Homo sapiens: one gene and its partners. The protein of the gene in region 7 interacts with the protein of the main gene of each other region in a biochemical or structural test. Each region holds a gene or a part of one and is shown on either strand. Other genes may lie near its edges.

The links.
Region 1: of the proteins of INSR (region 7) and PTPRC, one has a biochemical effect on the other in vitro, tested with the Homo sapiens proteins (one large-scale study listed by IntAct).
Region 2: of the proteins of INSR (region 7) and PTPRO, one has a biochemical effect on the other in vitro, tested with the Homo sapiens proteins (one large-scale study listed by IntAct).
Region 3: of the proteins of INSR (region 7) and SYNCRIP, one has a biochemical effect on the other in vitro, tested with the Homo sapiens proteins (one study listed by BioGRID).
Region 4: the proteins of INSR (region 7) and PTPN11 form a complex in vitro, tested with the Homo sapiens proteins (2 studies listed by BioGRID).
Region 5: of the proteins of INSR (region 7) and FRS2, one has a biochemical effect on the other in vitro, tested with the Homo sapiens proteins (one study listed by BioGRID).
Region 6: the proteins of INSR (region 7) and GRB7 form a complex in vitro, tested with the Homo sapiens proteins (one study listed by BioGRID).

What each region holds. Positions count from the first base shown.
Region 1 is NC_000001.11:198,715,540-198,719,039, reverse strand, and holds part of PTPRC (receptor-type tyrosine-protein phosphatase C isoform 1 precursor), read right to left. Parts: intron 2,359-3,500; coding exon 2,200-2,358; intron 947-2,199; coding exon 738-946; intron 1-737. UniProt on the Homo sapiens protein: Protein tyrosine-protein phosphatase required for T-cell activation through the antigen receptor. Acts as a positive regulator of T-cell coactivation upon binding to DPP4.
Region 2 is NC_000012.12:15,514,508-15,518,007, reverse strand, and holds part of PTPRO (receptor-type tyrosine-protein phosphatase O isoform a precursor), read right to left. Parts: intron 2,511-3,500; coding exon 2,390-2,510; intron 1,246-2,389; coding exon 1,052-1,245; intron 1-1,051.
Region 3 is NC_000006.12:85,622,387-85,625,886, forward strand, and holds part of SYNCRIP (heterogeneous nuclear ribonucleoprotein Q), read right to left. Parts: intron 1,727-3,500; coding exon 1,591-1,726; intron 302-1,590; coding exon 96-301; intron 1-95. UniProt on the Homo sapiens protein: Heterogenous nuclear ribonucleoprotein (hnRNP) implicated in mRNA processing mechanisms. Component of the CRD-mediated complex that promotes MYC mRNA stability.
Region 4 is NC_000012.12:112,421,947-112,425,446, forward strand, and holds part of PTPN11 (tyrosine-protein phosphatase non-receptor type 11), read left to right. Parts: intron 1-3,500. UniProt on the Homo sapiens protein: Acts downstream of various receptor and cytoplasmic protein tyrosine kinases to participate in the signal transduction from the cell surface to the nucleus. Positively regulates MAPK signal transduction pathway. Dephosphorylates GAB1, ARHGAP35 and EGFR.
Region 5 is NC_000012.12:69,574,888-69,578,387, reverse strand, and holds part of FRS2 (fibroblast growth factor receptor substrate 2), read right to left. Parts: coding exon 3,433-3,500; 3' UTR 1-3,432. UniProt on the Homo sapiens protein: Adapter protein that links activated FGR and NGF receptors to downstream signaling pathways.
Region 6 is NC_000017.11:39,744,362-39,747,785, forward strand, and holds the end of GRB7 (growth factor receptor-bound protein 7), read left to right. Parts: intron 1-191; coding exon 192-302; intron 303-524; coding exon 525-623; intron 624-740; coding exon of another isoform or gene 741-881; coding exon 882-962; intron 963-1,060; coding exon 1,061-1,177; intron 1,178-1,366; coding exon 1,367-1,427; intron 1,428-1,551; coding exon 1,552-1,639; intron 1,640-1,747; coding exon 1,748-1,841; intron 1,842-2,389; coding exon 2,390-2,536; 3' UTR 2,537-2,924; downstream 2,925-3,424. UniProt on the Homo sapiens protein: Adapter protein that interacts with the cytoplasmic domain of numerous receptor kinases and modulates down-stream signaling. Promotes activation of down-stream protein kinases, including STAT3, AKT1, MAPK1 and/or MAPK3. Promotes activation of HRAS.
Region 7 is NC_000019.10:7,165,415-7,168,914, forward strand, and holds part of INSR (insulin receptor isoform Long preproprotein), read right to left. Parts: intron 2,681-3,500; coding exon 2,554-2,680; intron 991-2,553; coding exon 740-990; intron 1-739. UniProt on the Homo sapiens protein: Receptor tyrosine kinase which mediates the pleiotropic actions of insulin.

The DNA of each region.
Region 1 (3,500 bases), on a different chromosome or scaffold from region 7:
AAGTGTGTTATCGGAATGTTGTTTATATTAGAGACCAACATAGTTATAGTTAATAGAATGTGATAAAGCCATACATAGAATATTATACAGGCATTAAAAACTACATAGTAGTTAAATATTTAACATAGAAAGGTGTGTGTGATATAGTGATATATTAAAAATACAGTTTTAAAACTGTATTTTGAAAACTGTGTACTCAGAATGTTGATAATACGTGTTAAGTGCATATAAATGTGTATATTATGAAGTTACATGTACAAAATACGATCAGTAGACAGTGAGATAATGAGTGTTTTAAATTCTGTATGCTCACTAGTATTGTCTAGTGTTTATTTCAAATATTTCCTAACCTCAAGGTACCTGTGAAATTTTGCAATTGAAAAATTCCACATTAATAAAGATAAAAAGCCAAAGTAAAGAAAAGGTAGATTTGGTAAAGTAATAATCTGTTGTGCATAAAGTGTTGTGCTTCTTAACACAGAAGCAATAATTTAGCTATAATTAAGTCATATTGAAGTTCTAAAATATTCCAATGAAACATTTGCTTTAAACCACTGACTTGAGCTATAGGAATAAAAATTTTAGAGTCAAATATTTGAGACTCTTTAAGTGTGATTCCATTACACATCAGAGCTTCTCAATCTCATGTGAGCAGTGGTCTTAAAGTTATTTAAGTACTATGAATCAATCATTATAATGTAGTTGGTACTATAGTAATGTAGAGAGCATACTTTTACCTTAAAAGTGTAGTCTGTTGAATATTGAAGATCTTTTACACGGAAATCGCAATTCTTATGCGACTCATTTCTAACCAGAGTATTTCCAGCTTCAACTTCCAAATGGTAACGTTCATGGGGGCCATTACGGTCCCTGGGAGGCCTACACTTGACATGCATACTATTATCTGATGTCATGGAGACAGTCATGTTCCAGACCTGGCTTGGAGCTATCAAAATGAAGAAAGATTTGTTATTAATAATTTAATAGATGCATATGTAAATTACTTGACAATACTTGGATATAGTATAAAGTATTTTAAGTGTTAGCTTGGGGGTTATAAATAAGGAAGTTATGATAGTACATAAATTAAAAAACAATATCAAAACCCTGAAGAATAAATCACTCATTTATTCAGTAAGTATTAGCATATAGGTTGTACATGAAGCCATGAGAGTTATTGCAATCCCTGAAGGAGACTGTGTAGAATTAGAGAATAGAGAAAAAGGGAAGGGAGTGGGGAAGAGGGGGAAGTTTGGGGAGAGGAGAGGAAAAATGTTGTTGATTGGGAAACCTCCAAGTCCTATTACACAATCTAGACCCTTCTTTCCCGGAGTGCTAATGTTATCCTGGTAAACACCTAGATGGGTTCTTCAGGAACAGAAACAAATTGTCTTCTTTTTCTGTGATACAGAAACTCAGGAAAACAACAAAAGCATAGAGCTCCAGGACCAGAACTTTTCAAACCAAAACCTAAATGACCTTAAAAGTGTCTTATATTCAGCCCCAAATAGCACAATATTTCTTCACAAGTCTAGTGCCCGTTAGGGTCTCTGGAGCTATAGATGCTGCCTTAAAACACGGCATTTCTTCTTCCCTGTCCTCGATGGAGGTTAACATGTGCCCCAGAAGCAGATCTAACTTTGGGCCTGGAAACTATGGAGAGATTATACTAGTGGCAAGAGCCAAATGCCATTGAAAGGAAACCTTAAATGGATAATGTGACATAAAATAGAATAGTAAGTAGTTGAGGGTAACGAAGAGAAGAAAATGCTAATAAAATATTACATTTTATGAAATGTTTTATCAGATGAACAGAGGTTAGTAGGCTAATGCTTTATGAGACATTGTTAGGTTTCTGATTACAATTAATATTTCCAGATAGTAAAGACAACAGCAAACAGTGAATGTTTTAATCTAAGTTGGTTAAGTACTTAACTGCATGAAATTGCACAAACTGATGCCAATTAAGATGCTTTTATGCTTTGTCCTTAAAATTCTATGACTATATCTGAAGAAGAGAGAGAATCCAGGATAACGGTTTTTAAACTTTTAGATTTTACGTGTTTATAAGCCCTAGATGTTAACAAATGTGCCAGGTAAATGTGCTTGCTAGAATAAAGATAGAAATATTGTAGGCTAAAAAGTTCATACCTTGCTTTTTACCATTTATGGAAAGAAGCATTAAAACATATAACTTACGAGCACTTTTAGTTGTGAAATGACACATTGCAGCACTTCCATTACGTTGCACTTTTGCAATGATGTAGGCATGTAATGATAAAACATATTTCGTATAAGGTTTTAAATTTTGCAAATCATATTTGATCAGGTTTTTATCCAGATTGAGGCAATCTTTTTCTGAGGAAAAATGTGAAAAAAAATTAGTAAGTCGTTAAAAGTCAGTACTACCACGTACCTAATTAATTTGGTCTCTACATCACATTGTTCCAAGTGAACTCCAAACTATTGAGTGATTGAAAAATAAGTACATCCTTGATACTCAAAAGTACCTACAATTATCAGCCAGTGTATTGAACAAACTCAATTATCATTGGTAAAATTAAATATTGAAAAATTATGGTTTTATATCATTAATTTGGTACATAAAATATTTAATAAGTTCAGATTCATTTGTGAAGACGATCTCTTTTGTTTCTGAGAAAACACAGCCCCCAGTGTATACTGTAAGTCTTGAGTTGCATGTTTCAGAATGATTCTTTTTTAGAAAACCTTTTCTGATATGTAACCTCCAAACTTTGAACATCGGTATTAGCTACTGTTTTGAATGTTAGATGCAGAATCCATTTGATCATCAGTCATTGGGTTGATTCTATCATAGTAATTTGGACACTACAGTAATTAACGGGAGCTGTGAGAATGAGGGAGTTTCATGCCGGAAGTGGAATTCAGCTGTTCATTGAAAGGTAAGTGGAACTGAATACATGTAAGGGAGAAAAGAAAATATTACAAACGGAAGAAGGAATGTTTTTGAGTTTAGTGACAAACCTGATCAGGACAACAGCTCTGGCTGGGGAGGCATATGAGAGGTAGGACAGTGTCTAAGTGTGTTTTCACACTCAGGCAGAAGACTTAGCACTTGTTAAGTAAAAAAATCACCAGCTGCTGCTATTTTTGAGTAGCCAAGTGACATCAGGAAAGAGGATGATTAGAGTGGCAACATGTTTCTGGATAGCAGCAACAGTAATAATAATATCAATAACGATTTTTAAAAATAATAACTCACTGTATGTGCCAAGCACTGTTTCAAGGGGTATACATGAAATAATTAATTTAACCATCACTGCAACTATTAGTTGGTACTCACTATCATCTGATTTTACAGATGACAAAACTGAGCCACAGAGAGATTAAGCAATTTGTTCTGTTTTTTTTTTCTTAAAAAAATAAAAGGCATTACACAAAATAATTTCCAGCAACATCATGGTGGTCTTGAAAGGTGCCTATTGCTTTCAGTAACTTTTGAAAAATAATCCTTTAAA
Region 2 (3,500 bases), on a different chromosome or scaffold from region 7:
GGAGACTGCACACAGAGTCCCTACTGGGGTACTGCCTAGTGGAGCTGTGAGAAGAGGGTCACCATCCTCCAGACCCCAGAATGGTAGATCCACTGACAGCTTGCACTGTGCACCTGGAAAAGCTGCAGACACTCAATGCCAGCCTGTGAATGCAGCCAGGAGGGGGGATATATGCTGCAAAGCCATAGGAGTGGAACTGCCTAAGACCATGGGAACCCACCTCTTGCATCAGCATGACCTGGATGTGAGACACGGAGTCAAAGGATATCATTTTGGAGCTTTGAGATTTGACTGTCCCAGTGGATTTTGGAGTTGCATGGGGCCTGTAGCCTCTTTGTTTTGGTCAATGTTTCCCATTTGGAACAGCTGTGTCAATGCCTGTACCCCGAGTGTATCTAGGAAGTAACTAACTTGCTTTTGATTTTACAGACTCATAGGCAGAAGGGACTTGCCTTGTCTCAGATGAAACTTTTGACTGTGCACTTTCGAGTTAATTAGTTAAGACTTTTCGGGACTGTTGGGAAGGCATGATTGGTTTTGAAATGTGAGGACATGAGATTTGGGAGGGGCAAGGGGCAGAATAATATGGTTTGGTTGTGTTCTCACCCAAATCTCATCTTGAATTCCCAAGTGTTGTGCGAGGGACCCTGTGGGAAGTAACTGAATCCTGGGGGCAGGTCTCTCCCATGCCGTTCTTGTGATAGTGAATAAGTCTCATGAGATCTGATGGCTATTATAAGAGGGAGTTTTCCTACACAAGCTCTCTTTGCTTGCTGCCATCTGTATAAGACATGACTTGCTCCTCCTTGCCTTCTGTCATGATTGTGAGGCTTCCCCAGCCACGTGGAACTGTAAGTCCAATTAAACTTCTTTCTTTTGTAAATTGCTCAGTCTTGGCTATTTCTTTATCAGCAGTGTGAAAATGAACTAACACACTATGTGTATTTACAAAATAATCAAATTTATAGATAATTTCTTAAAGACACATTTGGTACATAAAGGTTTGCCTGTTCCCATAGGAAAGACTGACAGTTGGTTAAGGGAAGATTACCACGGATGCAGTTAAGGAAACAGTTGCTGCTATTTCATAGTAGGTGGTCCACTCTGATGTCATTGTAGCAGGGTTGAAATAAAACATTTCAACCACGTATTTTCTGAACACGCCTAAATAAGGTCTGGTCCAGCTCAGAACCACGGCCGTAGGACCCAAAGGATAGAGCATTAAATCCTTTATTCCTGTGGGAACTAGAAAGAAGAGGGCAGGGGGTAGAAAAAGAAAGTTAAGAAGGAATGTCTTAGCAATGGCCTCAAACTTCTACTTAATGACCCGAGTTTTCACTCTCTGATACAATACCTACCTCCCTCCCTCCCTTCCTTCCTTCCTTCCTTCCTTCCTCCCTTTCTTGCTTCCTCCCCTTCCTTCCTCCCTCCCCCTGCCCTCCCCCTTCCTTCTTCCCTCCCTCCCTCCTTTCATCTTTTCTTTTCTTTTTCTTTCTTTCTTTCTTTTCTTTCTTTCCTTTCTCTCTCTTTTTCTTTTTCTCTCTCTTTCTCACTCTCTTCTTTCTCACTCTCTTTCTCACTTTTTCTCCTTTCTCTCTTTCTTTCTTTCTCTCTCTCTCTCTTTCGTTCGTTCTTTCTTTCTTCTTTTCTTTCTTTTCTTTTTTTTTTTTTGAGACAGGGTCTTGCTATGTTACCAAGGCTAGATTAAAACTTCTGGGCTTGGCTGGGTGTGGTGGCTCATGCCTGTAATCCCAGCACTTTGGGAAGCCAAGGTGGGCAGATCACGAGGTCAGATCGAGACCATCCTGGCTAACACGGTGAAACCCCGTCTCTACTAAAAATACAAAAAATTAGCCAGGCATGGTGGCATGTACCTGTAGTCCCAGCTGCTCAGGAGGCTGAGGCAGGAGAATTGCTTGAACCTGGGAGGCAGAAGTTGCAGGGAACTGAGATTGCACCACTGCATTCCAACCTGGGTGACAGAGCGAGACTCTGTCTCCAAAAAAAAAAAAAAACAAAACAAAAAAAAAACCAGACAAACAAAACAAAAAAAACAAACAACTTCTGGGCTCAAGCAGTCCTCCCACCTCAGCCTCCCAAGTAGCTGGAACTGTAGGTGTGTGCCACGGCACACAGCTTTACTCTTGTTGTATAATCATTGAAAACTAAAGTAAGAATGTTTGCCTCTGATTTTTTCCCCAAGTAATAAATATTAAGAATGTTTTCCAAGTATACAATTCTTGTTATTTATTACTCTGAAGGTAGCATATTGGATGAACTAATATGGACCTTCCAAATACGATGATAATGATTTGAGCTCGCACATTGCACCCCTCCGTCAATACCCTAATATATAGGTCAGTCATTCTTCTTGTGGCTAGCAACTTACCAATAGCAAATGTCACAGGATCTGAAGGTGGTCCAATCAAAGGGCCTTTCCTTAGGTATATTACAACCTGGTACTGGGCACCAGGAACCAGATTTTCAATAATAGGTTTGCTTGAGTTCACCTTTAAACCAAACACCCAATAAGATTTATTTAGAGCTGGGATTTCAGAATGTTACACAGAGGCTGGTATAATATTCAGAGACTCTTTTTGGAATCACAGATGACTTTGAAATCCAGAAGGCTTTACTGAAGCTGTCAGATTCCAAAATTAGGATGATTTATAGTTTATGTGAACATTGAAGGGAACCTAGAAGATTCAAATTTTGTCTGTTCTAAGCCCTGTGAACTGCTTTATACCCATCAGTGTCAATTATAACTATGCACACTAGAGACACATCAGCCTCTAACCATAATCAAATCAGCAATACCATGAGGATAGTTTGACATTCTAAATTGTGGTGTCAGCTGATTACATACAAAGGTCAGTACGGAAATGTCTTTAGTCTCTTGTCACTTAGAAGCATATAATATCTAATTATAGAAATGAAAATGACCACCGGGAACAGTGGCTCACGCGTGTAATCCCAGCACTTTGGGAGGCCAAGGCAGGCAGATCATTTGAAGTCAGGAGTTCAAGACCAGCCTGACGAACATAGTGAAACCCTGTCTCTACTAAAATACAAAGAAAATTAGCCAGGCATGGTGGCAGGTGCCTGTAATCTCAGCTACTCAGGAGGCTGAGGTAGGAGAATTGCTTGAACCCAGGAGGCAGAGGTGCAGTGAGCCGAGTTTGTGCCACTGCACTCCAGCCTGGGCAACAGAGTGAGACAAGCTCTCAAAAAAACAAAAATAAAAAATAAATAAAATAAATAAATAAATAAATGGAAATGACCTTAGAGATTACCTAGTCCAAAGTGCTCATTTAATAAATAAAGTAAAGCCAGAGAATGGCCAAGGTCATATATTTAGATGCAGTGTTGGGACTGGAAGCCTAGTGTTGGGACCTTTAATCTACACTATGGGCAAGTCACTGTGCTAAGCATCGAGATATCCTGGTAAGCACCCTGCCAGGCTGTTGTAGCCCCCTAAAATAATATTGTAGAGAACATTT
Region 3 (3,500 bases), on a different chromosome or scaffold from region 7:
AAATGTATACTGTTCATTTTATGTTCCCCCCACCCCAACCCCGGCCCTTCTCCCATTAATCCCTCAAAAAATATTTTTAACTTGACTATCATTACCTTTGCCATAACCTCAGGATCAGGATCTTCTATAGGATCAGCCCATTCAACAGTTCCAACATTCCCCCAGACCTTGACTTTACCACTCATTAACCTACGCCTTGCCTGGGCAGCTGTTTTGTGATCTTCATATTCAAGAAAGCAAAAGCCTCTGTTTTTTTTCTTGTCATCCGGTTGGTGGTATAAAATGACGTCTGTAAGACCCTCTGCAAGTAAGCAACCATTCCAGGAAAATTAGATGAAATAACTAGCAAATACAAGTGGATCAAAGGATTTATCTAAGATACTACTTAAATATCAAAATGAAAAATCATCTCTTTCCTTCACTAGACATCTTTATAAAAGACTATCAAAAACTAGGTCCGGATTATTTTCCTAATCTGTTTCCAAGTTTTTCAACACAGAAATCTCCAGAAAAGAACATGTGCTCTTTTTAGAGGTAAGGACTACTTTTGTTTTCACTAATTAGATCAGAGAGGCAGATAAAAATTTTCATATAATTGTTCTAAGAAAATGGCAGTATAGATCAAATATGGCTATTTTTCTTATTATGCAAACACTAAAATTATTTTTAATGGCACTTTTCTGGCCTTAGATATCAATGGCTTTATTTCAAATAAAATAGAAGTTATAAGTACTGCATAAAAATTTCCAATGTCCTGAAAGTTGATAACAGGCTGATAATTTGTTAGACACTGTTGGCAGACCAAAATATTTTCTAAAAGCAACCTGTCACTTAAAAGTTGTTACAGTTCAAAAAATTTTTTTACCATGTTGACAATATATAAACTCTGTTTATGGGCCAGGCACGGTGGCTCATACCTGTAATCGCAACACTCTGGGAGGCCGAGGCAAGCAGATCACTTGAGGTCAGGAGTACAAGACCAGCCTGGCCAATATGGTGAAACCCCACCTCTACAAAAGACGCAAAAATTAGCCAGGTGTGGTGGTGCGCGCCTGTAATCCCAGCTACTCAGGAGGCTGAGGCAAGAGAATCCCTTGAATCTGGGAGGCAGAGGCTGCAGGGAGCCAAGATCACACCAGCACACTCCAGCCTGGGCAACAAAGCAAGACTGTCTCCAAAAAAAAAAAAAAAAAAAAACACTCTGCTACGGCAATACTTACTACTCCTGTAATTTCAAGAACATCAAATCATTATTCAAACAATTCTACTAAGAACATCAACTAACACCTAGAGAAAGAACACACAAAGAAATACGATCTTCCAAAACATAGGAAGAACAATGATTTTGCAGAATGAATTCAAACCCTAGCTGTATTCCCTACTAACTTGTACAACGTTTGGCAAGTTATTTCCCAAATCCCTGAATGCCTGTTCTTCTTATCTGAAAAATGGGGTTACCTACACTTCAAAAGTTGTAGTGAGGATTCGATGAGTCAATAAATGTATTTAGAACAATGCATGACGCACAGAAATATGCTATTAATCTTCATTATTAAAAGCTGCACCTCATTCCAAATAAATCCAACTTACCTGTTACTTTGCTAAATTCTTCAAGAATCTGTTCCTTGGTTTTACTCTTAGGAATAGAGCCCACAAAAAGCCTATTGTTGGCAACTGAGATGCAGACACCAATATGTTTTCCAGAACGAATTTCATGATTATTATACTGAAAGGGGAAAAAGTGCATCATGTTTTTAAATTACTTATACAACTAGAACAGTTAATTATAAAAGATACACAAGAGCAAATCATCCTTTAAAAAGTAGTTTACCTTAATTCCCATACAAGGGAATTATGAGGAACAGATTATATTAACAAGACCCATTGGACAAGTTCATGAACCAATTTAATGCAAATAAAAGGTTATTAAATCCTTTACTTGATTAATTAGAAATCAGATCTGCAGCAGCTTAAATTCAAAAACTGCCAGTTCCTCAAAAACTTAACTTTTACTTAAGTTCATCCCATCAACCAGTTATTCTCATACAAGGAAAACTGATCCCAAGATCAGCAAGATCTCTGCCGTTCTGTTAACCAGCACCTAAATCTATTTTTCCATCTTCCCTTCCTCTTATCAAAAGTTGTAATAAGAAATTTCAGGCTTCAAATATTTAAGCCTAAAAAAACAGCTTTTATTTCTAAATCCAACTGTACTTTTTCCCCATTTCATTTTCATTATGCATATAACAAATTATGAAGGAGAAAGAGAAGTAGATTTGTCATGGCAAAAATATACAGAAACAACTTTAAAACTACAGTAAAAAGTAAATTGAATTTTCGAGTAACCATATCCCAGATTATCAGAAAGCAGAGGCAAAAAGCAACATGTCAAAGTGACAAATCCACCAATTAGTATTATTTACAAACCCAAGTGCAAAAGTATCCAAGTAATCTAGAAAAGTGGATTATATGGGTTAGTTAAAACCACACCTCAAAATTTGTTACTAATAATGGCGGCAGCAGCGGCAATAATTATTGATTAATCCTCCCACACCTAACCTCAAAATCTATTCTACACGTGGAGCTACACAAACTAAAGAACCAACATCAATTTCCATACAACTTTATAGAAATACCTTACAGCAAAAGAAACCATTCTTCTATTATGCCCATCCTTGCTAGGTACACCGGGTATAACAGAAGAAAACATGTAAGTCAGAAAGTTGAGTCCTCCCTGTCCCTTCCCCATCTCCAGAAAATCAAAATTTAATAAAGTTCAAATACCATACCTCCAGTTCAGAAAAATTTATTGCTTTCTACCCCACTATTCTGTACAGGCTATTCAAGTGTGTGGCCCTCCTGATCCCAGGTTTACTTCTATTTCTCTACATTTATGCCAGAGACACAACATTAAAAAAAGTAAAAAGATGACTCCTGCTACTTTCTCCTCTCTCTCTCAAATACCTTTTTATATCAACTCTTAAACATACAGGGTTTTTTTTTTTTTGTCTTTTCTGAGACAGAGTCTTGCTCTGTCCCCCAGGCAGGAGTGCAGCAGTGGCACTATCTCGGCTCACTGCAACCTCCGCCTCCTGGGTTCAAGCAATTCTCCTCCCTCTACCTCCCGAGTAGCTGTGATTACAGGCGCCTGCCACCATGCCCGGCTATTTTTTGTATTTTTAGTAGAGACGGGGTTTCACCATGTTGGCCAGGCTGGTCTCAAACTCCTGATCTTGTGATCCACTCGCCTCGGCCTCCCAAAGTGCTGGGATTACAGGTGTGACCCACCATGCTGGGCCACATGCAATTTTTATACTCCTATGGCTCTGAAGAAATTGCCTTCCTTCCCTGAAACTTCTACCATACAAGCTCCTCTGGATACCTGTAAATTAAGTTCAACCACCCAATACTACAATACATAAATCCTAAAAGGGTCAACAAAATACTCCTCCATGTTAACACAGACCAACAGTTCTCAACAGGAGTGATTTTGCCCCCCA
Region 4 (3,500 bases), on a different chromosome or scaffold from region 7:
GTATTAATTCATTCAACAGGAAGTTAATGAGCCAGGCAGGATAAAGCAGTAAGATAGGAAAATATTGCTATTTTCATGGCTGAGAGAGAGCAGACAAACACATGACTAAATAGGGCAATTTCAGGTAGTAATAAATTCTAGGAGGGAAAAAATCCCACAGAAATGTGAGGATGGGAGAATGCAGTTAGTTTTGATAGGTGGTTTAGAGAAGGTGATCGTGTGAGCTGACACCTGAATGACAATTAGTAGTCTGAATTTTGTTTTGCTTAATTATCAAAATAACTCCTCTTGGGTTCGGCTTTTATATGCATCCAGTAATTAAAATGTAAGTATATTCAATGTACTGATATCTCTCAGCATCATAGGTAGGAAAACTAAGGCATTCAGCAATTAAGTGACTCCTCCCTTGATCATGTAGCAGTGATAGTACTGGATTTAGATTTTGAGGTTGCTTCTCTGCCCTTTTCTGCCTTTGTGAAACCAACAAAGCTGCCTGTATTTTCCAACTCTTCCTTCAGCATGTGGTACCTCCTTTACATCTGTTTTTGTTGCTCTGAAATCCATACGCGACGATGAGCTGAGAGGGGCAGAAAATTGAGCTTGTTCTGAGACTGGAGGCTTTTGGTTTATCTCTTGCAGGTCAAGTACATTTTGTCCTGGGCTCTCCCTGGTGGCCACGTTTGTTTATCTCCTGCGGGAGTAAATAAACTTGCCTTGCTGAAAAATAACAGTTCTGTGTCTTTGCAGTGGAAACTGGGATGTCTTTATTAACGTTAGGTCCTGATGTAAGGCCAAGTTTTTGGTTAGAGTTGCTCAAGTGCAGAGGCCACTGCTAAGATGACTTACCCCTCGTGTCCATGGTCAATGTGGAGACTGTTATGAGTGGCACATGATGCTGGAAAAGCAGAGCCAACTCATGTTTGTAATTGTCCTAGCAGGCCGTGGTGTACTTTGTTAGGCAGCCACAGAACAATAGAGAAACTCAGCTTATTCCCCTTCCCTCTGGGAAACACAGACAGTACTTGCCATCCAACGCCAATGTTTTTAAGGAAGAAAGAGGCAAAAAGTGATGTTGGCAAGGTCTCTGGGAGTTGTGGACCCCAACCAAGGATTGGAGACCCTGAAATGGATTCAGATGCCCTAAAATGCAGCCCAGTTCATTACTATGAATTTTGGAGGACTTTGTGCCTTGAGCAAATGTGTATATGTGACGCTCTTTGACAACACTGAAATAGGAAAAATACTATCCATGTTCGCGAGGAGCACTGAATTTAGAGAGGGAGACAGACTTTTATGCCAGCATCAAATGAATTTGATAAAGCTAGTACCAAAATGAAATTTGAAATTTTTTTTTTTTGAAATAGAGTCTTACTCAGTCACCCAGGCTGGAGTGCAGTGATACAATATTGGCTCACTGCAACCTCCACCTCTTGGGTTCAAACAATTCTTGTGCCTCAGTCTCCTGAGTAGCTGGGATTACAGGTGCGTGCCACCATGTCTGGCTAATTTTTATATTTTTAGTAGGGATGGGGTTTCACCATGTTGGCCAGGCCGGTCTTGAACTCCTGGCCTCAAGTGATCTGCCCACCTTGGCCTTCCAAAGTGCTGGGATTATAGGCATGAGCTACCACACAAGCCTGAAATTTGAAATGTATTGGTATAGAATATACTGTTTAGAATGTATGTGTATATATGTATATTTGTATACTCATATAAACACAAATACACATTGTATGTGTTTCTGTAATATGTATATCTGTCTACACATACATGTATATACACACATACAATGTCTTTTTTTTTTTTTTTTTTTTTTGAGACAGGGTCTTACCCTGTTGCCCAGGCTGGAGACTGCAGTGGCATAATCTTGGCTCACTGCAGCCTCGACCTCCTGGGCTCAAGTGATCCTCCCATCTCAGCCTCCTGAGTAGCTGGGACTGACTACAGGCACGTGGCATCAAACTTGTCCAATTTTTCTATTTTTTTGTAGAGTTAGGGTCTTGCTCTGTTGCCCAGGCTGGTCTCAAATTCCTGGGCTCAAGCTGTCTGCCTGCCTCGGCCTTCCAAAGTACTAGGATTACAGATGTGAACCACTGTACCTGGCCTTTACAATGTCTATTTTAAAGATAATGGTTCAAGTTTTTATCATCCCACTGGCCTACTCTAATGAAACATCTATCCATTCATTGAAGAATTATTTATGGTGGGATAACTCTGTGCCAGGTACCGTGCTAGGCATTGAGTATTCCAGGTTTTAGGAAACAGCACATGCAAAAGTGCTGAAGTGGGAGAAGATCTCGGAGTGATTGAAGGCTAGGAGAGAGCAAGTGTGGGAGCTGTGAGGCTGGGAAGGTGGGAGGTAGGTGGGAGCAGACCACATAGGGATTCTTAATGTCTTTAGTGTCATGTGGACCATGGAGAGGAGTGTAGATTGTATTTTTAGAGCAATGCAAAATCATAGAAGGATGTGATCGGGGGAGTGGCATGAGCTGATCTATTTAAAAATATTTCTCTGGCTGCTGTGAAGGAAGGATTGTAGGAGGCAGGAGTAGATTCAGGGAGATGAGACAAGTGATGAGAGAGGCTTTGAACTTGGGTAAAAGTAGTTTGTGGAAAGTCTTTTTTGGAGGTAGTTTTTGTTTATTGCCTTGTCATCAAAGCAGAGATGCTGACCAATGAAACTCCATGAGAAAATAGTGATTTATAAAGACATATCTATGCACTGCCATTAAAAAGCTGCTTGGAAAAAAAGGATAAAAAGCTGCTTTAACAACTTTTTTTTTTGAGATGGGGTCTTACTCTGTCACCCAGGCTCACGACCTCAGCTCACTGCAACCTCTGCCTCCCAGGCTCAAGCATTCTCCCACCTCAGCCTCCCGAGTGGCTGGGACTGCAGGCACACGCCACCATGTCAGGCTAATTGTGTGTGTGTGTGTGTGTGTGTATGTGTGTGTGTGTGTGTGTGTGTGTGTGCTGGGACTGCAGGCACACACCACCATGTCAGGCTAATTGTGTGTGTGTGTGTGTGTGTGTGTGTGTGTGTGTGTGTGTGTGTGTGTGTGTATGTAGAGATGGGGTTTTGCCATGTTGCCCAGGCTGGTCTCAAAATGTTGCCCAGGCTGGTCTCAAACTCCTGAGCTCAGGTGATCCACCCGCCTCGGCCTCCAAAGTGCTGGAGATTACAGACGTGAGCCACTGTGCCCACCTAACAACTTTAAAAAAATTTTGACATTTAGTAGGATATTTATTGCATTATTGTTGAGATGGCAAAATATTGGAGACAACTGAAATGTTCATCAGTGGGGGGGGCTAGTTAAATGAAATACAGTGTAGCATGCATTAGAACACTTTTCAAGAATTTAACTTTTTTTGTAGCCTTTTACTTATAATGCTTGTCCCTATTGATGCCTTTTTTTTCAGCATGACTTACTCTTTTACTATAGGATATTAAAATTTAATTAGATTAGAAATGAGGAATATTCTTGTAATCTGTAGAAAGT
Region 5 (3,500 bases), on a different chromosome or scaffold from region 7:
TCTTTACATTCTGTAATTTCGTACCAATGCCTTTATTCAAATTTGGCAAACATCAAGGAAAAGGTAATTAGTACCATATACCTCACACATCAGAAATATGAATGAGATGCCAATACATCAGTTACTTGTGAATGATGTCTCTGATGGTATGTCTATTTCAAGAATATATGTATTTATACACACACACTACACATTGCACAAAACATTTGGGCATTATAGGTTAGGAATAGCACGGGGGAATTGGGAAGTACTTTTTCATCTGTTAAAACCTTTACCTTGAGGCAAAAATATGGCGGCACATTGTTGGGAAATTATGAAAACATAAGGCCCCTGTCCCATTTTTAATAGAACATTATTGAGGTACATTTTTATATGCTGTGCCACAGTTTTGGGGAGGGGGAGGAGATAAACACTAGCTTGACTTGTTCTATTTATAACATTGAACGCTGGAGAGGGTCAACATTAGTATCTATAAAAACAAAGATTGCTTGGCAAATTTTCCTAAGTCCCAGATATGATGTATTCTGGATATACTGAGAAGTGAAAAGCTTTTTGCTGAATCTTAAAGAGTAAAGTGCATATCTCATCACTCCACAGCAGCAGTAAATAAAAGGAAATATTTGCCAGTCTTCCTGGAGGGAGGGAAGGCACCATATTTTCATTTTTAGAAGAAGATGAAACTGGGAAATAAAACACACTAAGAAAAAACACAAGTAATACCAATATCAGTTTCCAACCCTAGCATGGGATAGATGCTGTTATGATTTGTATGGATAAAACAGTATTCTATTTGGAGGGAAAACATTAACAATGATTATATTTCCAAAACCAAAAAGAAGGATCACATGGTCTACCAACAGAATTATCTAAAATTAGATCTGCCTCAGAAAATCTGAGATATATGGCCACAATTATATGCTAATAAAATATCAATATTTCATTCTAAAATGCACCTAGTAATAGGTACATCCTTCGAGGACACAGCTTAATGCCCATTACTAAACTACTGCAAAGGACAAGTAGTATTCTAAATTACCTTTTATTAAATAGGAACACAAGTGATTTCTAGAAAATATCTAGAAATTAACACCAGTTGTATATATTTTCCTAATACTCTTATAGTACCTAAAATCAAATTCTTAGCAGACAAATTGGTCCCATTTTCCTTTTTAAAGCACATAGTATTTAAAGCATAAACTGTAATGATTATATTGGAGTTATCTAAAAAAAATAAAAACTAATTAGAATCCGGGGGAAACAATGAAAAGGATGACGGAAAGAAAGAATAAAGTACCCAACCTCCAAAATGAATAAATAGATCAGCCCTTGCATTTGGAGATTAATGTTCTGCCTTGACTGGCTGTTTCAGAAAAAAATGTGCAATGGTTCCATCATAATTCTTATTCCACATTACAAAAACTATTACATAAATTTGGCACAATTAGCAATTTACTCAGAAGAAAGGATAAGTGGAACAATATATTAAAAATGGAACCTGCATCATGGAAACTGCACACCTATACCACTGCTCTCTTTTAAGAGAACAGTGAGCACTTTAATAAGCACCAAGTTCACAGGGGAACAAAAGGGAGAAAAGAAAATTCTGCTATGCACATAGAATGATAAAATACACTGATATTGATTTATAGTAAAGACACTAAAAATGGCACTAAAACGATAAAGACACCTTTAATAATTTATTTTCTTTATAATGATCCCACTCTATTGTTCTCCTAATCCATCATTGTCCTATGATTCGGTTACTGAATAGGTTGGATGCCAATATGACTAAAACTTTTTCATGCTAAATTAACCTTAGTTATATCTGGTAGATCCAGATCATAATCTCAAACTTCCTCATATTTAGAGAAAATAGTAAAATATTTTGCAAGGTTACCTAACCTTTTCCACTCTACCTTCTCTCGTATTCTCTAGTGTTTAGGAAATTGGAACATCTTTGATTTTCCAAGAGTTTGACATATGGAGACTCTTCAGTTTATATAAACTTTAATTCATTTTAAATCCTAAATTATGATACAATCTCACTGCTACAAGACTTCCACTGTACCTGCTATGCTGGCAACAATATTAATATTTCATGGAAATCGAAGGATAATCAAAGATCCAGCTACAAGTAAAAGGACAGCAGAGCTGAGGAACACTAGAGTGGGCAGAGTACAACTGCAGCGTGTAGCTGGGGGAATTACTGCTAAAGTGCTGGGGAAGAGTGCCCACAGAGACAACACGGTACACCTTGAGGGAACTTTGCATGTTAAAAGTAGCTTCCTTTTTTTCTCAGTTTGCTAAAGAGATCACCTATGGACACAAGCAAATTTAGAATTGGAGAATGTTTTTATCAACTTGAAAAGTAAACAGCTTATAAATAAATACTGGACAAGGGCAACCCTGTTACAGACTAACAGTAAGTTCCAAATGAACCTTCAAAACCATAATTTGACAAAAATGCAAACTAAACAACAATGAACACATAATCCAATTTCAAAACTATATACAAACTCAAACATTTTAAATTGAAAAGGACATAAGGCAACAAAATAAGACATCCCAAACACCAAAGAAAAAAACTGAAGATAAATGGAAACCTAATGGCACAAATGCCTCCAGAAAACAATGTGTTGTCAACAATCTATAGGAGAAAAACTTTCAGGAGATTGTGGTTCAGATTTTCAAATGTTTTTGGGTAAAGTGACCTGAGACTGATTCTTGAGCCTATTATAATTTTAAGATATCTGGACATGCCCTTCAAATGACATCATGAGATGAGTAAATAGAAAATCTTGTCTCCTTCCTGCCTTTCAGTGCACCAACAGCAAAGCACACTCATGGACACAGGCCGCTTTCTAGTAACACTGAAGGCAAAGGAGCTGACTGGTGTAAGAGGAGGTGCGGTACTTCTGTTTCCTTTACATATGTTTTGGCTCAAGTCAAAAAGCCATTAATTAATGAAATAAAGGATTCCTCATGTTACATGCTGGAGGCCACATACTGTGAACACTGAATCTACGAGCATTACTTTCAAAGCCTATAGTTACCTGTTAGCAATGTACATTGTCAAGAGGCTTTATAAAAAGTTTTAAAAGCCAACCATGACTTAGACATGAAAGGTATGCGTTAAGTCCAGAATATTGATAAAAATCAACCAGCATGTCATTTACTTCAACTCTCATTTTAAATAGGCACTGTGAAAACGGGAATGCTGCTGTACAACGAGTAGTATATAATGAAATTAGTGTTCTTTAAGGAGTACCTGCTCTACATTAATTCCCTTTAGTTAAAGATGCACATGAAATATTCAGAAAAAAATTTTATCAGTCTATAAAAGGAGTTAGTGTTTAGAAATGAAAATGAAGCACTTGCATCTTCATTTTTAAAAACTTCACAAAGGTGCAAACAACACAATGCTTTCCAGGCTCACATGGGCAGATCAGTACTATTGTGTCTAGTTTTCCTAGATGTACCATCATCTCGTGGCAGTGCTT
Region 6 (3,424 bases), on a different chromosome or scaffold from region 7:
CACCTGCCCAGGGAGGTAGCAGGAGAAAAGATGATCTTAGTTTAAGTCCTGGCTCTACTTCTATTTGCTGTGTGACCCTGGGTATTCCCCTGCCCCTCTCTGGTCCTGAAATCTCCCCACCTGGCTTGTGGGGGGAGGTAATAGTGGGCGGGATCTACCTGTACCAAGTCCTGCTCACTCATGCTGCTTAGGATCCGAGGCACCTGCAGTACGTGGCAGATGTGAACGAGTCCAACGTGTACGTGGTGACGCAGGGCCGCAAGCTCTACGGGATGCCCACTGACTTCGGTTTCTGTGTCAAGGTGAAGACCTGGCCAGGCCTGGCCCCTGGCCTGGGGAAGCAGGAACTGCTCAGGCCCCTGGATCCTGCCCGGGGCTTCTGAGCCCCAATTCAGACACCTAGACTCCTCTCCCTGCACCCTGGCCTGCTGGAAACTCCTGGATTCAGCTCTGCTATGTGGAGCAGGGGCAGACATGTGGTCCTAAAGGCAGATATGGGACCAGTCAATTTCCTCTCTCTGCAGCCCAACAAGCTTCGAAATGGCCACAAGGGGCTTCGGATCTTCTGCAGTGAAGATGAGCAGAGCCGCACCTGCTGGCTGGCTGCCTTCCGCCTCTTCAAGGTGAGACCCTGGGAGTGGCATGGGGGGCTGGCCTGGCCAGAGGGATCCCCAGCTCTGCCCTCAGGAAGTCTCAGGAATGAGGAGGGCATCACAGCCTTGCTCTCTGATAACCCCCAGTCCAAGCCTGAAGTTATAGGAAGTGCCCATCGAAGGCAGAAACACAGCCCTGGTCTGGGCAAGTCCTGGTCTGAGGGGGGCGTCACAGCCACGCCCCCAGGACCTCTCGACCTCAAGCTCTCTTTCTCTCCCCACCCCCAGTACGGGGTGCAGCTGTACAAGAATTACCAGCAGGCACAGTCTCGCCATCTGCATCCATCTTGTTTGGGCTCCCCACCCTTGGTGAGTGTGCCCAAGGGGATGGGAGGGTGGGTATGCAGGCCCTGTCTTACGGGTACCTGGGCCCTGTTCTGACCTCTCTCCTCTCCTTCCATCTCCAGAGAAGTGCCTCAGATAATACCCTGGTGGCCATGGACTTCTCTGGCCATGCTGGGCGTGTCATTGAGAACCCCCGGGAGGCTCTGAGTGTGGCCCTGGAGGAGGCCCAGGCCTGGAGGGTGAGGCCTGCTGTGTGTGTGTGTGTTTGTGCTGGGGACCCACTCTCTGGGTGGGATCCCTGAAATAGGAGGGAGGAAGAGAGGGCGGGGGGAGGCCCCTGGCTGGGAAGAAGTGCTCTACCTTCCTGAGGTGCTGGGTAATGCCCCCAAGCACGCCCCGACTCTCCCGTATCTCCCACTGCTCCACAGAAGAAGACAAACCACCGCCTCAGCCTGCCCATGCCAGCCTCCGGCACGAGCCTCAGTGCAGGTGGGTGACGGCCCCGAGTCCTGGGGCGGGGGCTGCCTCAACTTCTCTTTGTATTCCCAGTGGGGAGTAGATGGTATAGGGGTCCCCTCCCCAAAGTGACCGCCCATGTCCTTCCCCACCACAGCCATCCACCGCACCCAACTCTGGTTCCACGGGCGCATTTCCCGTGAGGAGAGCCAGCGGCTTATTGGACAGCAGGGCTTGGTAGACGGGTAAGGGGCAGGGCCGGGCAACAGACCCAGGGATAAGAGAGACTGGGGTCCAGGTGGCAGCCATGGTCCTTGGGTAGTAATGCTGCCCCATCTCCTGTCTTCTGGCAGCCTGTTCCTGGTCCGGGAGAGTCAGCGGAACCCCCAGGGCTTTGTCCTCTCTTTGTGCCACCTGCAGAAAGTGAAGCATTATCTCATCCTGCCGGTGAGCTTCCCTGCGTCCCCGGAGTCCTGCAATGAGACACAGGACTCCCAGCAACCTGTCCTCCTCACCAGGCCCCTCCAGAGGCTCCCTGGCCCCCAGTGCGTCTCCCTTTTCCCTGCACAAGAAGTGGGAGGCTGAGTGCGGTGGCTCACACCTGTAATCCCAGCACTTAGGACGGCCAAGGTGGGAGAATGGCTTGAGCCCAGGAGTTCGAGACCAGCCTGGGCAACACAGGGAGACCCCATCTCTACAAATAATTTAAAAATGAGCCAGGCATGGTGGTGCACACCTGTAGTCCAGCTACTCAGGAGGCTGAGGTGGGAGCATTGCTTGAGCCCAGAGGGTCAAGGCTGCAGTGAGCCATGGTGGCACCACCACACTCCAGCCTGGATGACACAGTGAGAAAACTGTCTCAAAAAAAAAAAAAGAAAGAAAAAGAAAAAGAAAAAAGAAAAGAATAAAAGGAAATGGTGGGGCCCTGGCCCAGGAGGGAGCTTCCCAAGCCTCGGGCCCCTCCCTGAACTTCCACCCCCTTTACTGTACCCCAGAGCGAGGAGGAGGGCCGCCTGTACTTCAGCATGGATGATGGCCAGACCCGCTTCACTGACCTGCTGCAGCTCGTGGAGTTCCACCAGCTGAACCGCGGCATCCTGCCGTGCTTGCTGCGCCATTGCTGCACGCGGGTGGCCCTCTGACCAGGCCGTGGACTGGCTCATGCCTCAGCCCGCCTTCAGGCTGCCCGCCGCCCCTCCACCCATCCAGTGGACTCTGGGGCGCGGCCACAGGGGACGGGATGAGGAGCGGGAGGGTTCCGCCACTCCAGTTTTCTCCTCTGCTTCTTTGCCTCCCTCAGATAGAAAACAGCCCCCACTCCAGTCCACTCCTGACCCCTCTCCTCAAGGGAAGGCCTTGGGTGGCCCCCTCTCCTTCTCCTAGCTCTGGAGGTGCTGCTCTAGGGCAGGGAATTATGGGAGAAGTGGGGGCAGCCCAGGCGGTTTCACGCCCCACACTTTGTACAGACCGAGAGGCCAGTTGATCTGCTCTGTTTTATACTAGTGACAATAAAGATTATTTTTTGATACACCTATGAGTTCTGTCTGGCAAGGCCTGGCTGGCTGAATCAAGAAGGGAACCAGAGCTGGACGTGGTGGCTCATGCCTGTAATCCCAGCACTTTGGGAGGCCAAGGTAGGAGAATTGCTTGAGTCCAGGAGTTTGAGACCAGCCTGGGCAACATGGCAAGACCCTGTCCCTACAAAAAATAAAAAAATGAGCCGGGCATGGTGGTGTGCACCTGTAGTCCCAGCTTCTCAGGAGGCTGAGGTGGGAGGATCCCTTGTTCCTTGAGCCTGGGATGTCAAGGTTGCAGTGAACTGAGATTGTGCCGCTGCACTCAGCCTGAGTGACAGAGTGAGACCCTGTCTGGAAAAAAAAAGAGGGGAGACCTGGAGAGGTGGGCACCTGTGGAGGCCTTGGTGGAAGTGTCAAATGGATCGAGGCCATGTCTCAGCCTGCCTGGATGTTCCTCAAGGGCAGGAGTGGTTATCTGAGAGTCTCCAGTGCCCACCATGCAGCTTGACACAT
Region 7 (3,500 bases):
GAAGCTGGGAGGCGGCTAACTATGGGGTTTTGTTCTGTGTTGTGAATATTTGACAATTTTTCATAATAGGATGAAAAATATAAATATTCCCATCAAGTGGCTTGTTGCTACTGCCTCGTCTGAAACTATAAGCCTCAATACCCAGCTCCTTTAAAAGCCAATAACTGACTGGGCAAGGTGGCTCACACTTCTAATCCCAGGACTTTGGGAGGCCGAGGCAGGAGGATCACTTGAGGCCAGGGGTTCAAGACCAGCCTGGGTAACACAGCAACGTTCTGTCTCTACAAGAAATACAAAAATTAGCTGGGTATAGTGGTGCATGCCTGTAGTCCCAGCTACTCAGGAGGCTGAGGTGGGAGAATTACTTGAACCTGGGAGGCGGAGGTTGCAGTGAGCCGAGATCATGCCATTGCACTCCAGTCCGGGTGACAGAGTGAGACTTCATCTCAAAGAAAAAAAAAAAAAAAAGCCACACATGGTGGTATACTCTGGTAGTTCCTTCTACTTAGGAGGCTGAGGCAGAAGGATTGCTTGAGCCCAGGAGTTTGAGGCTGCAGTGAGCCATGATCACCCCACTGCATTGCACTCTAGCCTGGGTGACAAAGTAAGACCCTGTCTAAAAAAAAAAAAAAAGCCAATAACCATATCAAGGAGCATTTTATACAACCTCACTGCATCAGCCTATTAAAAGCAAGAGGTCTGATTCACATACGAATTCACATTCCCAAGACACACTCACTGGTGGCATCTGTCTGGACATAAATGATGTCACTCTTGGCCCCATAGGTCCGGCGTTCATCCGAAAAGGTGACCAGGGTCTTCACAAAGATGGCATACTGGGTCCAGGGCTTGAGACCCCGCATCAGCCACCCTGGGTGGTTCTGTGATTTGGGGTCGTTGGACCTCAGGGGTGGGTCAATGTCTACCACCGTCCAACTGTTGGAACCACACGCATCCTGCCCGTCGAACTCCGTCACATTCTGATAAGGGCTTTCAAGACAAAACAGCAGAAGGCAGTTACCCTTACAAGACCGTCACACTGAGTGCCGTGCAGATGAGGCCTGGGAAGTTACATCCCATAGGGTCACATGTTACTCACCCAACAATCTAATGCCACAAGAAAAAATAACTCGGGAACAGCCAAAGAGAAAGGAACTGTCAACCCTGACATCTCAATGAAAAAACACAGCTTGGGCATCCCTTATTCAAAACACTTGAGACTTGGCCAAGTGCAGTGGCTCACGCCTGTAATCCCAGCACTTTGGGAGGCCGAGAATGGCGGATCACCAGAAGTCAGGAGTTCGAGACCAGCCTGGCCAACATGGTGAAACCCCGTCTCTACTAAAAATACAAAAATTATCTGGGCATGGTGGCAGATGCTTGTAATCCCAGCTATTCAGGAGGTTGAGGCAGGAGAATTGCTTGAACCCGGGAGGCAGAGGTAGCATCAGCTGAGATCGCACCACTGCACTCCAGCCTGGGCGACAAAGGGAGACTCTGTTTCAAAAACATAAATAAATAAATAAATAAATAAATGCTTGGGACCAGAAGTGTTTTGGATTTTGGATATTTTGGGGTTTTGAAATATTTGCATTTTACTAGTTAATTTGCATTGTACTGGTTCAGCATCTCTAATCTAAAAATCTGAAATCTGAAATGCTCCAATAAGCATCTCCTTTGAGTATCAAGTCGGCCCACAAAAAGCTTTGGATTTTGGAGCATTATAAATTTCAGATTTTCAGATTAGGGATACTCAATCTGTAATAATAGTAATAGCAGGAGCTCCCTCACAAGTTACTGATAAGATTAGACTGTGTGTCAGTGCTCAGCAAGGCACAAGGTAAATCTTGAGGGCTAGAACTATTATTAATATTACTACTGGTCAGGTGCGGTGGCTCATGCCTGTAATCCCAGCACTTTGGGAGGCCAAGGTGGGCAGATCACCTGAGGTCAGGAGTTTGAGACCAGCCTGGCCAACATGGCAAAACCCGTCTCTATCAAAAATACACAAATTAGCTACGTGTGATGGTGTATGCCCATAATCTCAGCTACTCAAGAGACTGAGGCAGGAGAACTGCTTGAACCCGGGAGGCAGAGGTTGCAGTGAGCCAAGATCTGCCACTGCACTGTACCCTGGGCAACAGAGCAAGACTCTGTCTCAAAAAAAAAAAAAAAATTGGGGATAAAAAAGAAAAATAGATAAGCAATACATTTGATAACATCCACTTAGTAGACTGAGCTCCTGACTACTAAGGATGTCTGATGAGACATACACAGGCAAGGCAAAATAGAATATTGCCCCAGGAAACTGGCCAGTCCGGGCTTCTATGGGAAAGCTGTCTGCTTCCATTTTAGGCATTTGATAAAAGCAGACACTATTGACTTTGCATGCCATCGACTGGTGAGATTGTAAAAAGGAACCTAAGATATTTATTCCAGGAGGAGGAGGGAGATAGACAGGAACCCAAGAGGGGCAGATTGGAGCACAAACGTAGCAAGCACAGAGCCAGCCAGCCCTCGCCTCCTCAGCGTCTCTCTAACTCTTCTACTTACGCCTCTTTGTAGAACAGCATGAACCCCAAGAGGTCTCGGAAGTCGGGGGGCCAGTACGGCTCCCATCTCAGCAAGATCTTGTCAAAAGATGTCCGAATGTAAGAAAATTTAAGTAACTCATTTTCACCTGGAAAAGTTAAAACAAAAGGCAAAAATGAGCTATTTCAGTGTAGTTTCAGACCAAAGCCTGGGACCCCCACACTTCCTGGAGGGACCGTGAGAAGGCAGAGGTGACGCTGCTATTCCCTTAAGGGTCTCCTCCCCATGTGCCTGGCTGAGTATGAATGGGGGAAGATTCAAAGGTAAGAGCCAGTTTTGCAACTTGGCCACTCACACTCACGTAAGCCAATGACTTGACTCAGCCAGACAGTCAACTGAATAAGCGCAGTCTGTACCCGCGCAAGAAGGACAACCGGCCAATAGTTATTGGAGGAAGGGATTTCCAAGGGTGATGTTTGTCCTGACACAACGTTGTCTCGCATATGGACTTGTAAGACTGACCTGGAAGGAGGTGCAACTCCAGTGCAAATAAACCTATGCCAAGTGAGTTTAGAGACCCTGCAGATCATTAGACATCGGAGAGACGCATCTAAGTAATTCTCTCTGCCTAGAAGACAAACCCTCTCCTAAACCTCACCCCAACCTCGCTCTCTCTCCTTGCACTACATTTTTTTTGAGACAGTCTTGCTCTGTCACCAAGGCTGGAGTGCAGTCCACCTACCGGGTTTAAGCAATTCTCATGCCTCAGCCTCTCAAGTAGCTGGGATTACAGGCACCCACCACCACGTCCAGCTAGTTTTTGTATTTTTTTTTTTTAGTAGAGATGGAGTTTCACCACATTGGCCAGGCTGGTCTCGAACTCCTGACCTCAAGTGATCTGCCTGCCTCGGCCTCCCAGAGTGCTGGGATTCCAGGCGTGAGCCACCATGCCCAGCCCTTGCACTACA